Linked DNA regions of Homo sapiens. Changing the gene in region 2 together with the main gene of any one other region gives a genetic interaction. Each region holds a gene or a part of one and is shown on either strand. Other genes may lie near its edges.

Region 1 (3,500 bases), on a different chromosome or scaffold from region 2:
ATAAACACACATACATACACACATAATGATTCTTATTAAGCAAAATGATAAGTGCTATGTCAAACTTATGACCTCAGTGTCGAGAGAGTTGGAGAAGCTTCCTTGGGATGGTCTTGAGGATGAACAGTAACCAGGTTAATTTCTCTCATAACATATTAAAGACATGGATTGCATACTGCATGTCCTAGAAGGAAACCTTATATGGCTGGGAAACTATAAAATGAAGAATCATAAATAAATATAAAGATAAAAATGTAAGGAAGAAAAAGGATTCTTGCCAACAATGCAAAACAGAACAGCTGTGAGCCAGTGTGCCCAACTCAAAAGACAGTAGGTGATAGGCTGTTCTTTGGAACCTGTTTCATTTATTCACTGGGTAGGAATTTCTGTTTTCTTTCCATATGTGTCACTTACTTTACACTGAGCACAAAGGAAAAATGTGATTATCACTGTATCTTTGATATAATTCCATTCAAATACCTCTCTCTATATAATGGTTTTTTACATACTGAAATTATATATTTTTCACGAAGTGTTTTTGTCAATTTCTCAACTACTCTAGTGGAATCACTGTCTTCAAAGACAACCTTTGCCTTAGCACTTGAGCAGGACCAAATGTTAAAACAAATAAATGGCTAGGAAAAAGTTACGATATGAGAAAATATGACCTCGAATGGCTGGAAAATGTATGATTATGCAAAAGATTTCTATGCCGCAGGACAATTTCAAAATGTTTAATGTTTAAAATAAAATTTTTTTATCCATAAAGGACCTCTAGGATATTGTAAATCATTTTCTTCTTCCAGAATTCCATTAAACAATAAAGGCCATGTTTTAAAGGGCAAGAGTGTTGTGGTAAGAGGAGGTGACTCTGCCATTAGCAGCGGATACAAAAGTGGCATGTGCAACTGCTTCTCTCCAGCCCCCGTTTGGAGAGAATGAGCGGTCAGCTGCAGGCACGGTGAACTAATTACATAGCTGTTCCTTCCCTACCACAGACATTTGGTTAACCACAGGACTTCTTTGGATACTCCTAGGGTACTCCTGCCCTGACATTGTTCAGGAGAAGAAAAGGCAATAGGAATTAGAACAAAAATTAGAATTTTGATTGTCTTGTTTTCTTTTCTAAATTAATATTTTTAGGCACAAAGTGAAATAGATATAAATGTATGCTTAAAGGGCACCAGAAGACCTATAAATAGAAATTGCTAGAAGTACCACTAAATAATTTAATACCAACTTCAATAGCCACTCTTTCCTTCAGCTAAGAAAATAAACTGAGGGGTGGAGGGGGAGTATGTGCTTCAGAGGACACTGTGGGCAAGATCCCAGTGAGATTCAGAATCAGCAGAACCCCAGTGTCGTGGACAGGCTTAGTGATTTCAGAACTGCTGTGTGATCAGTGTAGGCACTGAGACCATGTGGTCACAGTGGGGAATTAATTACCTGTAGGAAACCACCTCGTGCCCATGACCTGGATTCCTAAGGGGGCTGGATGTCAGGTACTTCCCTCACCATGATCCCTCCAGATGGCACCCTGCAACTACTTTCTCTTTCCTGCACTGGTGCCAGTGAGGAGAAGTTAGGATTCTTAAAGAAATCCTGAAAATACGTCATTATCTCTCTTTGCAATTGGACTTTACGGCAAATAACTAGTATTCCCAAACCTGGTCTATAGGTCCCTTCTTGAGCTCTTTTTGTTATTTATGCTAGAATGGCAGGCACTTTTATCACAAGAACAGTTTTTAAACCCATGGAGTATTTGTGTATTTTTGATTTCAGTGACCTCAATGGCTTTAATTTTGAATATGAATTGATAGAACTTTCAGTAATAAGGCAGTTGAAAAGCCCTCTAGTCCCCAGTTGATGCCTGTCATGAATATAAATGTTAGAGTAATGCTATTTAAATGTTTTGACTGACCCTCGAAAAACACTTTCAACCAAATGTGATGCTAAAAGCTGAGGTACAACAAATAATTGCAATTGTGGCAAGAAACCAAACCAAACGAAATAAAACCTTGAAATTTTAATTTTAATTTAAAAAGTGGGTGGGGGAGACCATGACATAACAGTAGAACAATATTTGCCAAAGATAATGATCACAGATATGATTAATTATGATAGTGCCTCCGCCTGTCTTTTCTGTACCCATGATCCACAGGACTGGAGCCATCCCCAAGGTGAGTGTCAGGATGTTTTGAAACTGGGACACACTGTACAGGGGTGAACAAAGGAATCTGCTTTTCAATACCACACTGCCTGCTGCAACCAAATGTCACTGCAGGGCTTAACAGTGAGTAAATGCTGTGTGTGTAAATGCTTCTTCTATGTTTAAAAAACAGGAAACAAGAGGCCTTTGAGCATAAGTTAGTAATAATGACTGATGAGTTTAATTTACCTTAAGGGAAGGGACCCAGAAAAGTTTGGCTTATTAGACAACATGTCTTAAGAAAAAAGGATGCCAAATAACATTTTGAATAATGCAGTTTTTTGAAAGGTGGAAGCTCACCCCTGCCTCTGGATGCTATGCATTTTGAGCAGGTGTTAGCGGCAGTAGCAAGGGTTAAAGGACAATACTTTCCATCTTTCAGGACCCATAAGGGAACATATTAAAATAAAAAACAAAAACAAGCCTCTCTCCTACAGCACTCTCGTTTTGGCCATCTCCTGCTCGGCTGCCACTCTAATTGGACTTGAAGTGCTGCCTCCAGGAAAGTGACTCAAGAACCAGCTGGAGCAGAATGCAAATAAGCTGGTAGGGGAGAGAGCCCAGGGAAAGAAGATGAAACAAAAAGAAAAACAAAATTAAGGAGGAAAGGGGAAGAGGAGAACAGAGACCATCTGAGTATAGTTCACACTTTTTTTTTTTAAACAAATAAGAGGAGGTTCTAGTACATCATCAGGTTTTTAATAAGCAATCTGGAACCCCAGTAAGGGACAAATAAGACACTATTTACAAATAACTTTCTTTAAGCCAAGTGTACCTGTAAAACAAAGTTAAATGTACAGGTGCCTAAGAATGAAGTTCATAAAATGTAAAAGGTAAAAAGAGCCATATTAATGGTAACGTTTAATCTCTGTTTTTATGCTGTGGCTACTACAAGCATATTTTCCAAATGAAGGCTCATTTCTATGGTCTAATGGTCCCAGGAATATTATTTGGAGATGAAAATGACTAACTGCTGCATCAGTCAATTTGCAATGAAACAGGCTCTTGAAAGTTTAGGTTTGTGTTACCTGTTCCTTTTTTGAAAGTGTGTCAAGTCTGAGGGAGCACCTGACAACCACTGACTTGATACAAGCAGTCTGTCCAGGTCCTTTCCTCCATGTAGAAATAATGAAGCAAGACACACTCCCGGATACACACAAGAATAAATATTGACATTAACATTTATCTTTATAAGTGGGGAGGATCTGGCAAATTGCTATGAAGAATTCATTTCAGTAACTATTTGGACTAGTAAAGCTAACAGCTTTGAAAGGCTTAAAAATGATTTTAC
Region 2 (3,500 bases):
TGTTGTTTATGATGATACTAATTTAGCAGTATGGATGAAGGGTGGAAAATGGATAAACAGGAAAAAAAAAAAACTTTAAAATCTGTAATACAGAGAATGTCATTACTTCTAAAATGACAATCCCAAAACTCCACTTGGCCAGGAAATGTAAAGGCAATTGGTGTGTGTGTGTGTGGTCGTGGTGAGAGGTCATAAATTAATGGCTGATAAATATTATAAGGAGTCATGATTCACATCTTTAAGTATATATGCATGCCTCACCCTATGTGCATTTGTTTGCAAACAAGAAGCTGCATTCTGATAGCTTTCATTCAGCAAAATTCTGTATTATAGCATAAAATCTGGAAGGTAACAAATATAATTCATTAAACCATTAAGAAGGTGTCAAAATATCCTTATCCACAAATTCTCCCTTTGTCTGTTTAAGATTTGCATTAACATGTATTTACATAAAAAACACTAAATAGTGTTTCGAGCTACTTAATGTGTTTACTTTGTACCAGTAATTTACTTATATAAAAGCATTTTTTAGACTAAAGATTTCAAACCCAAAGGTACAGGAAATTAAGTAAGAAAACTCACTTTGTCATTTTAAAATAATGGAATTTCTTATTTAACAACAAAATATTGCTTGATAAAAAAAATTAGACAAGCCAAACTGATGGATGCATATTTAACAGTTCCTTTCCCCTGCCACCATCCCTTTCCAAACCCCCATACACACAGTCATATACCCTTCTGTGGTATACTATCTCAATTTCTGGTGATGAAGAAAATATAACTGACTATGTGGTTTGGAAGAAGCTGACCTGCAATGTTAACTAAAGGCACGATTACCACTAAGACACCTGGAACGGACATAAGATCCTAAAAATGCCCACGATTTAAGAAAAATTAGAGTGGCTTAATAAACTGAGAATTTCAGAGTGACTTCTTCATTGGTCCTGACTAGCAAGCCCACACCATCCCATTTTGGTCAAATAAGAGTAGTTACACAGGGTCCAAGAGGAAGATGGTTCCAGGTGGCCAGGATTTTGAGAGTCCTAAAGTGCATTCTGGCTATCTGTCCCATGCTTTTAACCTAAAAATGTTCTTTGTATGTATGGATTTTAGCAACTTTAGCTCAGCCTACACAGCATTCGCTTCAGCTGCCCTCAGCTTTCTCTGTAAGTTAATTTTAATAACCACAACCATCACCACCAACATCTTTACCAGGAAAACAACCAAATGCTTTTAAAATCCATATTGCTCATTACAGTTGAGTATCTATAAATGCAATGCCCACAACTGCTTCAAAGAGTTAATAATAGCTAACATTTATTGAGTATTTAATATGTGCCAGGCACTGTGGGAGTGTTACATGCATTAACTCACGTAAACTTGACTGTTAACTATATGAGACAGGTGTAATTATTATTCTCATTTTACAAATGAGAAAACTGAGGCTTGGTGAGTTAAGTAATTTCCCATGAACACTTAGGTAGCAAGTTATATAGCTCCTAGATTTAAATGTAGGTAACCTGACTTCAGAATTCATGCTCTGGAACCAATAAGTAACCTTGCCTCTCACATGTCATGTTTCTTTCTCCAGCCAGTCTGAATCCTAAGTAAGAGTACTATGTTGTAAATTAACCACACCTGTGAATCCATGTTTCTGGACTCTTTGGAAACTTGGTTAAGGCGAGTTTTCCCAGATGTAAATCCTTAATTGGATTTAAAGTGCCAGAGAGGATCAGCTCTTTCCTGTAAAAAAAAAAAAAAAAAAAAAAAAAAATTAAACATTACTTTATCCTTATATCCAAAGGTTCTACATGGCTTTTAATATAATCTCATTGTGAAGCGAATGTCTAAGAATTTTAAAACAAAAAAAGAAAGAAAAAAAGCCCAAGCCACTCTGGGATATAAAACACTCATAAATGTGACATGCAGTAATCAAGAATGTATTCTCATAATCCCAATATAACAAACTAATAAGCAGAAAGAGAAGCTCTTAAATCAACAGATTTTAACGATTTTTAAATCTTAACTATTTGCGTGAGGGTAAATGGGGTTTTCTGGCCTATCTCATTTCCAAAAGTTGTGAGACCTGATATCGTACCTATAGGGCCAATCCAATACCAGCCAAAATTGGTCTAGTTTCCTAAATAGGACTTGACATGGTCTATTTCATTACAAAACCACACATACAACAAACACAATATGGTTGAGATGTAAGGGAAAAAAAAATCATTCATGGAATCACTATTCTAACCAAATTACTATTTTTTATTTTTGAATTTTCCCTTCTACTTTTCCCTATCACACATACATTTTAACATATAATTTTACATCCTGCTCTCATTATATCTTAAGAATTTCCCCATGATTCTATATAATCTTTGTAATGAACATTTTAAATGATCAAATTAGTTTTCATTTAGAAGCTATGCTTTTCCCTTCTTGTTAGACATTTAGGTTGCGTCAAACTTTTTGTTATTTTAAAACAAATCTGGGCAGGGGAAGCTTTGTGCTTATAACTTCTTTCTTTTGTATTCTTACTTTGGATAAGTTTCCAAAAGAGCTATTAACAAGGTAAAATACTTACATGACCCTTGATATACGAGGCCATTCCTTTTTAAAATATTAATATAAGCAGCAGAAGTAATAGCAATGTAATGTTTTGGTTGTTTTTAAAACTGTTCAAGCCCAACCAAAGCTTCAATGCAATCAGTTGTCCCTTGGTATCTTGTGGGGGCTTGGTTCAGGACCTCCCAAGGATACCAAAATCTGCGAATGCTCAAGTCCTTGATATAAAATGTGTTGCCATATAACCTACACACATCCTCCCATATACTTCATATCATCTCTAGATTACTTATAATACCTAATACAATGTAAATGCTATATAAATAGTTGTTACATTATTCAGGGACTAATGATAGGAAAACAAAGTCTGAACATGTTCGCTACAGAAAGCAATTTTTTCCCCAAATATTTTCTATCTGCGGTTGGTTGAATCCATGGATGCAGAACCTACAGATACAGAGGGCCAACTATATAAAGAATGTCATGCAAGAGCTTTCTATACCTGTTTCTCAGGTAAATACAATTTACATTTAATTTCTCAGGTAAGTTTTTGATAAGTGCTGATATTACACTCTCACTGAATTCTCAATGTATCTATAATTTTATAATAAAATCAGATCATTTGTTATTATTTATCTTAAAATGTCCTTCCTGTGTAGGGCTGATTATTCATTTATTTTAGAGAAGTTTAAGCCAGAGAAAACCAGAATCCAGCTCTTATACCATATCTACTTAGACGGACTTAATTCCTAAATACCACAATACATTTTCTTTCCAACAGTGACATACTATTTATAAAGTTTTATTTGATAAAGAAAACAACTATTTTCCTTTCAATGTTCAGGAAACCAATTTGTCATTATATATATATAATATATATATAAAATATATATTTTTTTCTTGCAACAGCCAATTGCTTTTGCAGTCTTGGATTA
Region 3 (2,889 bases), on a different chromosome or scaffold from region 2:
AAAAATTAAAAAAATTAGCTGGGTGTGGTGCCACACACCTGTAGTCGCAGTTATTGGGGAGTCTGCAGTGGGAGGATTGCTTGAGCCACGGAGGTTGAGGCTGCAGTGAGCCATGATCACACCACTGCCCTCCAGCCTGTGTGACCATGAGACCCTGTCTCCAAAAAAAAAAAAAAGGTTGTTTGATGGAATACTGTACAGCAGTCAAAAACAGACTACTAAACATATATCAACATAGATAAATCAGTAAAAATGCCTAGTAGAAAGCAAGCTGCATATATGCAATATACCATATAAGTAAATTTACAAAACAGCACTACATATTTTTCATAAATCTAGGTACAATAAATAAGACTAAAAGAATGTAGACTAAATTCACTGGAAATGTTACCTAAAGGCTGGGAGAAAAAGGGAATCGGACTGCAGATGGGGTGTAAAGGTGTACTTAGCTTCATCTGGAATGCAATTTTTTGAATACCATTTTAAAAATACAATAAATATTTTTTTCAAGAGAAAATGACAAATGTTGATCAATTCTGGGTAGTAGAAATATAAATAATTTATTATTCTCTGTATGTGTCTATTTTTAAAATATCTTAGAGGAAAAAAAATCACATTAAAAAGTACAGAGCTGGGCCGGGTGCAGTGGCTCATACCTATAATCCCAGCACTTTGGGAGGCCGAGGCAGGCAGATCACCTGAGGTCAGGAGTTTAAGACCAGCCTGGCCAACATGGTAAAACCGTCTCTACTAAAAATACAAAAAGTAGCCAGGCGTGGTGGCACGTGCCTGTAATCCCAGCTACTTGGGAGGCTGAGGCAGGAGAATTGCTTGAACCTGGGAGGTGGAGGTTGCAGTGAGCTGAGATCACGCCACTGCGCTCCAGCCTGTGTGACAGAGTGATACTCCATCTCAAAATAAAATCAAAGTACAGGGCTGGGGAGAGGGAGAAATAGGAAGCAGCTGCCTAATGGGTACAGGATTTTCTTTTGGAGTAGTGAAAATGTTTGGAACTAGATAGAGGTGGCGGTTACGCATCACTGTGAAGACACTAAGTGCCACTGAATTGTTCACTTTAAAATAGTTAATTTTATGTTATGTGAATTTCACCTCAAAAAAAGTCAAAAGCTACATTTTTAGAGCAATTTCAGAAACAAAAACTTTTAAGCAGGTAGTTTATGTCCTTGGCTACAGGGTAGAGGTTAATCTTCAGGGATATTTCAAAGACATGAATTGACTTATAAAGAATGAGTTTCTGTTAGCATGTGACAGTGAGGATTCTCTAAGGTCAGACTGACTTCCAAATAGCTATATTAAGAAAGAAAAGTAACAGCTAACGAGTTAGCTTGGGTGCTTCAGAACTACTGGTCTACAAAAACCCAACTAACCAACCCAGATTTAGTTATGGGAATAAAAGTAAAAGGGTATGAGCAGGGTTAGGCCTTAAAAATATTATTAGCTTTTTTTGAACAGCCTCTTTAAGGTACCCAGTATACATCTCTACCAAGAGTCTCCTAAGTTTCTAATATGCTATTATCTTTTCAGGAGCAGGTCTCTTATGTATGTACCATTTGTATCATCTGACATCAAGTGAGAGATATACACAGCGTCACCACATGTGATGTTCTTGCTGAAAATATCTGACTCTATGTTGGTATAACGCTATTAATGTTGATTTTCTTAGGTGGGGTTCAGGTATTACGGTTGTATAAAAATGTCCTTGTTTTTAGAGACACATGCCAAAGTATTTAAGGGTTAAATTTTATGACTGCAGCCTACTTTTTTGGTTGTTTGTCAAAAGGGAGGTATGGGGGTGGGAGGGAGAAGGAGCAAAAGTGGCAGAGAGTATGTGGCAAAATTTTAACAGTTGATAAATCTAGGTAAAAGCTATTCAGTGTTCATTATTGTCCTTTAAGTGTTCCATGGCTTTGAAATTTTTGAAAACAAATAATTCTTTAAAAAGAAAAAGAAGAATCAGATAATAAGACTATCATTCTTGCATAAAACTCTTAAATTCAGCCTAACAGATTCAACAGAATGAAGCTTTCACATAGCTCTTTGCAAAATTGATTCACTGTACTTCTTCTTAAATGGCAGGGCCAACTTCTGACCCCAACATACATTTTTTTCATTTTCCATTTGTTCTTATAAGTTTGAAATTTGAGCCTGAAATTCCTTTAACAGGAAATAAAATTTTATTCCTAAAAACCCTAGAACACTAAAGAATTGATATTAATACGTAACTAAATGATCAGTGCTTTAAATTTTATAAAATCTCTTCCCCATATCTTTATCTACATAACTCTTCAAAAAATCCTATTAAGGAAACTTTTATCATCATCCCTATTTTCAAATCTAAAAAACCTAAGCTGAGGGGGAGTAAGTGATTTGCCCAAAGTTACAACAGCTAGTAAGTGACAGAACTAGAACTTAACCCAAGTTTTCAGATTCTAAGTCCTACCCTATGCTTTCTATGTACTATGCTATTTTACAGTAATATATACAATCTTTCAATAGCTTACAATAAAATATATACATATACACACATATATTATTTTTCATAACCCTGTGAAAGAATTAAGACAGATTTCATCCTTGTTATTTTATAAATGTGGCACACAGGTTAAGTGACATTCACATGGTCACACAGTAGGACTTCTGAATCCTGTTTGGAATAGGGAAAGCTATTGGGTAACTAAGGAAGTGCTACTAATTCACACTGCCTCAAAACAGATACATAACGTCAGGTAAGCAATTGTCCATGTATAAACCCCTTTTAGATAGTTAGATAGAAACAGATATTTCCACAGGGGAAAAAAAAAACACAAAAGCTTGCTGATTTTACAACGTTGGTCTTCAGTGTGATTACAGCAGAAAAGGATGGCACAA
Region 4 (3,500 bases), on a different chromosome or scaffold from region 2:
TCTGTTGATTTGGGATGGAGAGTTCTGTAGAGGTCTATTAGGTCCGCTTGGTGCAGAGGTGAGTTCAATTCCTGGATATGCTTGTTAACTTTCTGTCTTGTTGATCTGTCTAATGTTGACAGTGGGGTGTTAAAGTCTCCCATTTTTATTGCGTGGGAGTCTAAGTGTCTTTGTAGGTCTCCAAGGACTTGCTTTATGAATCTGGGTGCTCCTGTATTGGGTGCATATATGTTTAGGATAGTTAGCTGTTCTTGTTGAATTGATCCCTTTACCATTATGTAATGGCCTTCTTTGTCTCTTTTGATCTTTGTTGTTTAAAGTCTGTTTTATCAGAAACTAGGATTGCAAACCCTGCCTTTTTTTGTTTTCCATTTGCTTGGTAGATCTTCCTCCATCCCTTTATTTTGAGCCTATGTGTGTCTCTGTACATGAGCTGGGTCTCCTGAATACAGCACACTGATGGGTCTTGACAATTTGCCAGTCTGTCTTTTAATTGGAGCATTTAGCCCACTTACATTTAAGGTTAATATTGTTATGTGTGAATTTGATCCTGTCATCATGATGTTAGCTGGTTATTTTGCTCATTAGTTGATGCAGTTTCTTCCTAGCCTCAATGGTCTTTACAATTTGGCATGTTTTTGCAGTGGCTGGTACCAGTTGTTCCTTTCCATGTTTAGTGCTTCCTTCAGGAGCTCTTTTAGGGCAGGCCTGGTGGTGACAAAATCTCTCAGCATTTGCTTGTCTGTCAAGTATTTTATTTCTCCTTCATTTATGAAGCTTAGTTTGGCTGGATATGAAATTCTGGGTTGAAAATTCTTTTCTTTAAGAATGTTGAATATTGGTCCTCACTCTCTTCTGGTTTGTAGAGTTTCTGCTGAGAGATACGCTGATGGGCTTCCCTTTGTGGGTAACCTGACTTTTCTCTCTGGCTGCCCTTAACATTTTTTCCTTCATTTCAACTTTGGTGAATCTGACAATTACATGTCTTGGAGTTGCTCCTCTTGAGGAGTATCTTTGTGGCGTTCTCTGTATTTCCTGAATTTGAATGTTGGCCTGCCTTGCTACGTTGGGGAACTTCTCCTGGATAATATCCTGCAGAGTGTTTTCCAACTTGGTTCCATTCTCCCTGTCACTTTCAGGTACACCAATCAGACATAGATTTGGTATTTGCACATAGTCCCATATTTCTTGGAGCCTTTGTTCGTTCTTTTTACTCTTTTTTCTCTAAACTTCTCTTCTCACTTAATTTCATACATTTGATCTTCCATCACTGATACCCTTTCTTCCAGTTGATCAAATCGGCTACTGAAGCTTGTGCATCATCACGTAGTTCTTGTGCCATGGTTTTCAGCTCCAACAGGTCATTTAAGGACTTCTCTACATTGGTTATTCTAGTTAGCCATTCAGCTAATCTTTTTTCAAGGTTTTTAGCTTCTTTGCAATGGGTTTGAACTTCGTCCTTTAGCTCGGAGAAGTTTGATCATCTGAAGACTTCTTCTCTCAACTTGTGAAAGTCATTCTCCATCCAGCTTTGTTCCTTTGCTGGCGAGGAGCTGCGTTTCTTTGCAGGGGGAGAGGTGCTCTGATTTTTAGACTTTTCAGCTTTTCTGCTCTGTTTTTTCCCCATCTTTGTGGTTTTATCTACCTTTGGTCTTTGATGATGGAGTCGGACAGATGGGGTTTTGTTGTGGATGTCCTTTCTGTTTGTCAGTTTTCCTTCTAACAGTCAGGACCCTCAGCTGCAGGTCTGTTGGATTTTGATGGAGGTCCGCTCCAGACCCTGTTTGCCTGGGCATCAGCAGCAGAGGTGGCAGAACAGCGAATATTGCTGAACAGCAAATGTTGCTGCCTGATCATTCATTCCTCTGGAAGCTTTTTCTCAGCGGGGTACTGGGCCATGTGAGGTGTCAGTCTGCCCCTACTGGAGGGTGCCTCCCAGTTAGGCTACTCGGGGGTCAGGGACCCACTTGAGGGGGCAATCTGTCTGTTCTCAAACTCTGTGCTGGGAGAACCACTACTCACTTCAAAGCTGTCCGACAGGGACATTTAAGTCTGCAGAGGTTTCAGGCTATGCCCTGCCCTCCGAGGTGGAGTCTACAGAGGCACACAGGCCTCCTTGAGCTGCGGTGGGCTCCACCCAGTTCGAGCTTCCTGGCCTCTTTGTTTACTTACTCAAGCTTCATCAATGGCGGGCGCCCCTCCCCCAGCCTCACTGCCACCTTGCAGATCTCAGACTGCTGTGCTAGCAATGAGCAAGGCTCCGTGGGTGTGGCACCCTCTGAGCCAGGTCAGAGATATAATCTCCTGGTGTGCTGTTTGCTAAGACCATTGGAAAAGCACAGTATTAGGGTGGGAGGGACCCAATTTTCCAGGTGCTGTCTGTCACCGCTTCCCTTGGCTAGGAAAGGGAATTCCCTGACTCCTTGCGCTTCTTTGGCTCACACACAGTGGGCTGCACCCACTGTCCTGCCCCCACGGTCTGACAAGCCCCAGTGAAATGAACTTGGTACCTCGTTGGAAATGCAGAAATCACCTGTCTTCTGCGTCGCTCACGCTGGGAGCTGTAGACTGGAGCTGTTCCTAATTGGTCATCTTGGAACCACTCCCTTAATTTTAAGTTCCTTGAGGGTTCTTACGCAGCTTTTTTATCTCTAGTATTTAGATCAGAACCTTAATTAGTATTTATTAAAAGTTTCCATATTATTCCAAAATCTTCATAAACATTTAAAGTATCTCCATAGTACTTCAGAAAGTAGGCATAAAAATTTACTTAATCATTCTTCCATTATTATTAGATATTTAGGGTGTTTTGAAATTTTTGATATGCTAGTGAAAGGTTATTTCTGTTTAAACCTTTGTTTAAAATTAAAATTATGTCCTTAGTATACCTTCCCAGGAGTAAACTCAGTACTTAAAAGGAAACATTTAAAGTTCTTGATATGCATTGAGAAATAACTTTCATGGGGTTATACTGCCACCAGCCATACACTTGAGCCTGCAGGTCTTGTTGCACCTCAACAGTATCATGTAGTTGGCTTTTCATCCTTGTTAACCTGATAAAGGAATAAAAGTGACATCTTGGCCAGGTGCGTTGGCTCACACCTGTAATCCCAGCACTTTGGGAGGCTGAGGCAGGCAGATCACGAGGTCAGGAGTTCGAGACCAGCCTGGCCAAAATGGTGAAACCCTGTCTCTACTAAAAATACAAAAATTAGCTGGGCGTGGTGGTGGGTGCCTGTAATCCCAGCTACTTGGGAGGCTGAGGCAAGAGAATCACTTGAACCCAGGAGGCAGAGGCTGCAGTGAGCCGAGATTGCGCCACTGCACTCCAGCCTGGGTGACAGAGCAACAATCCGTCTCGGTGGTGGCGGGCAGTGGGGGAGTGACAGCTTGCTTTAGTCTGCATTTCTTTACTTTCTGATAAAGATCAAAGATTATCATTATGATTATTCTGGCAAATCAGTTGTTTTTCCTCTCATAAATTCTCTGTTGATCTACTC

Evidence for each region. A genetic interaction does not mean that the proteins touch.
Region 1: changes in PTAR1 (region 2) and COG5 are lethal when combined (synthetic lethality), as found in Homo sapiens cells (one study listed by BioGRID).
Region 3: changes in PTAR1 (region 2) and VPS54 are lethal when combined (synthetic lethality), as found in Homo sapiens cells (one study listed by BioGRID).
Region 4: changes in PTAR1 (region 2) and RABL3 are lethal when combined (synthetic lethality), as found in Homo sapiens cells (one study listed by BioGRID).

Annotation. Positions count from the first base shown.
Region 1 is NC_000007.14:107,231,921-107,235,420, forward strand, and holds part of COG5 (conserved oligomeric Golgi complex subunit 5), read right to left. Parts: intron 2,293-3,500; exon of another isoform or gene 2,162-2,292; intron 1-2,161.
Region 2 is NC_000009.12:69,732,512-69,736,011, forward strand, and holds part of PTAR1 (protein prenyltransferase alpha subunit repeat-containing protein 1), read right to left. Parts: intron 1,744-3,500; coding exon 1,639-1,743; intron 1-1,638.
Region 3 is NC_000002.12:63,894,540-63,897,428, forward strand, and holds part of VPS54 (vacuolar protein sorting-associated protein 54), read right to left. Parts: intron 1-2,889. UniProt on the Homo sapiens protein: Acts as a component of the GARP complex that is involved in retrograde transport from early and late endosomes to the trans-Golgi network (TGN).
Region 4 is NC_000003.12:120,736,017-120,739,516, forward strand, and holds part of RABL3 (rab-like protein 3), read right to left. Parts: intron 2,652-3,500; exon of another isoform or gene 2,511-2,651; intron 1-2,510. UniProt on the Homo sapiens protein: Required for KRAS signaling regulation and modulation of cell proliferation. Regulator of KRAS prenylation, and probably prenylation of other small GTPases. Required for lymphocyte development and function. Not required for myeloid cell development.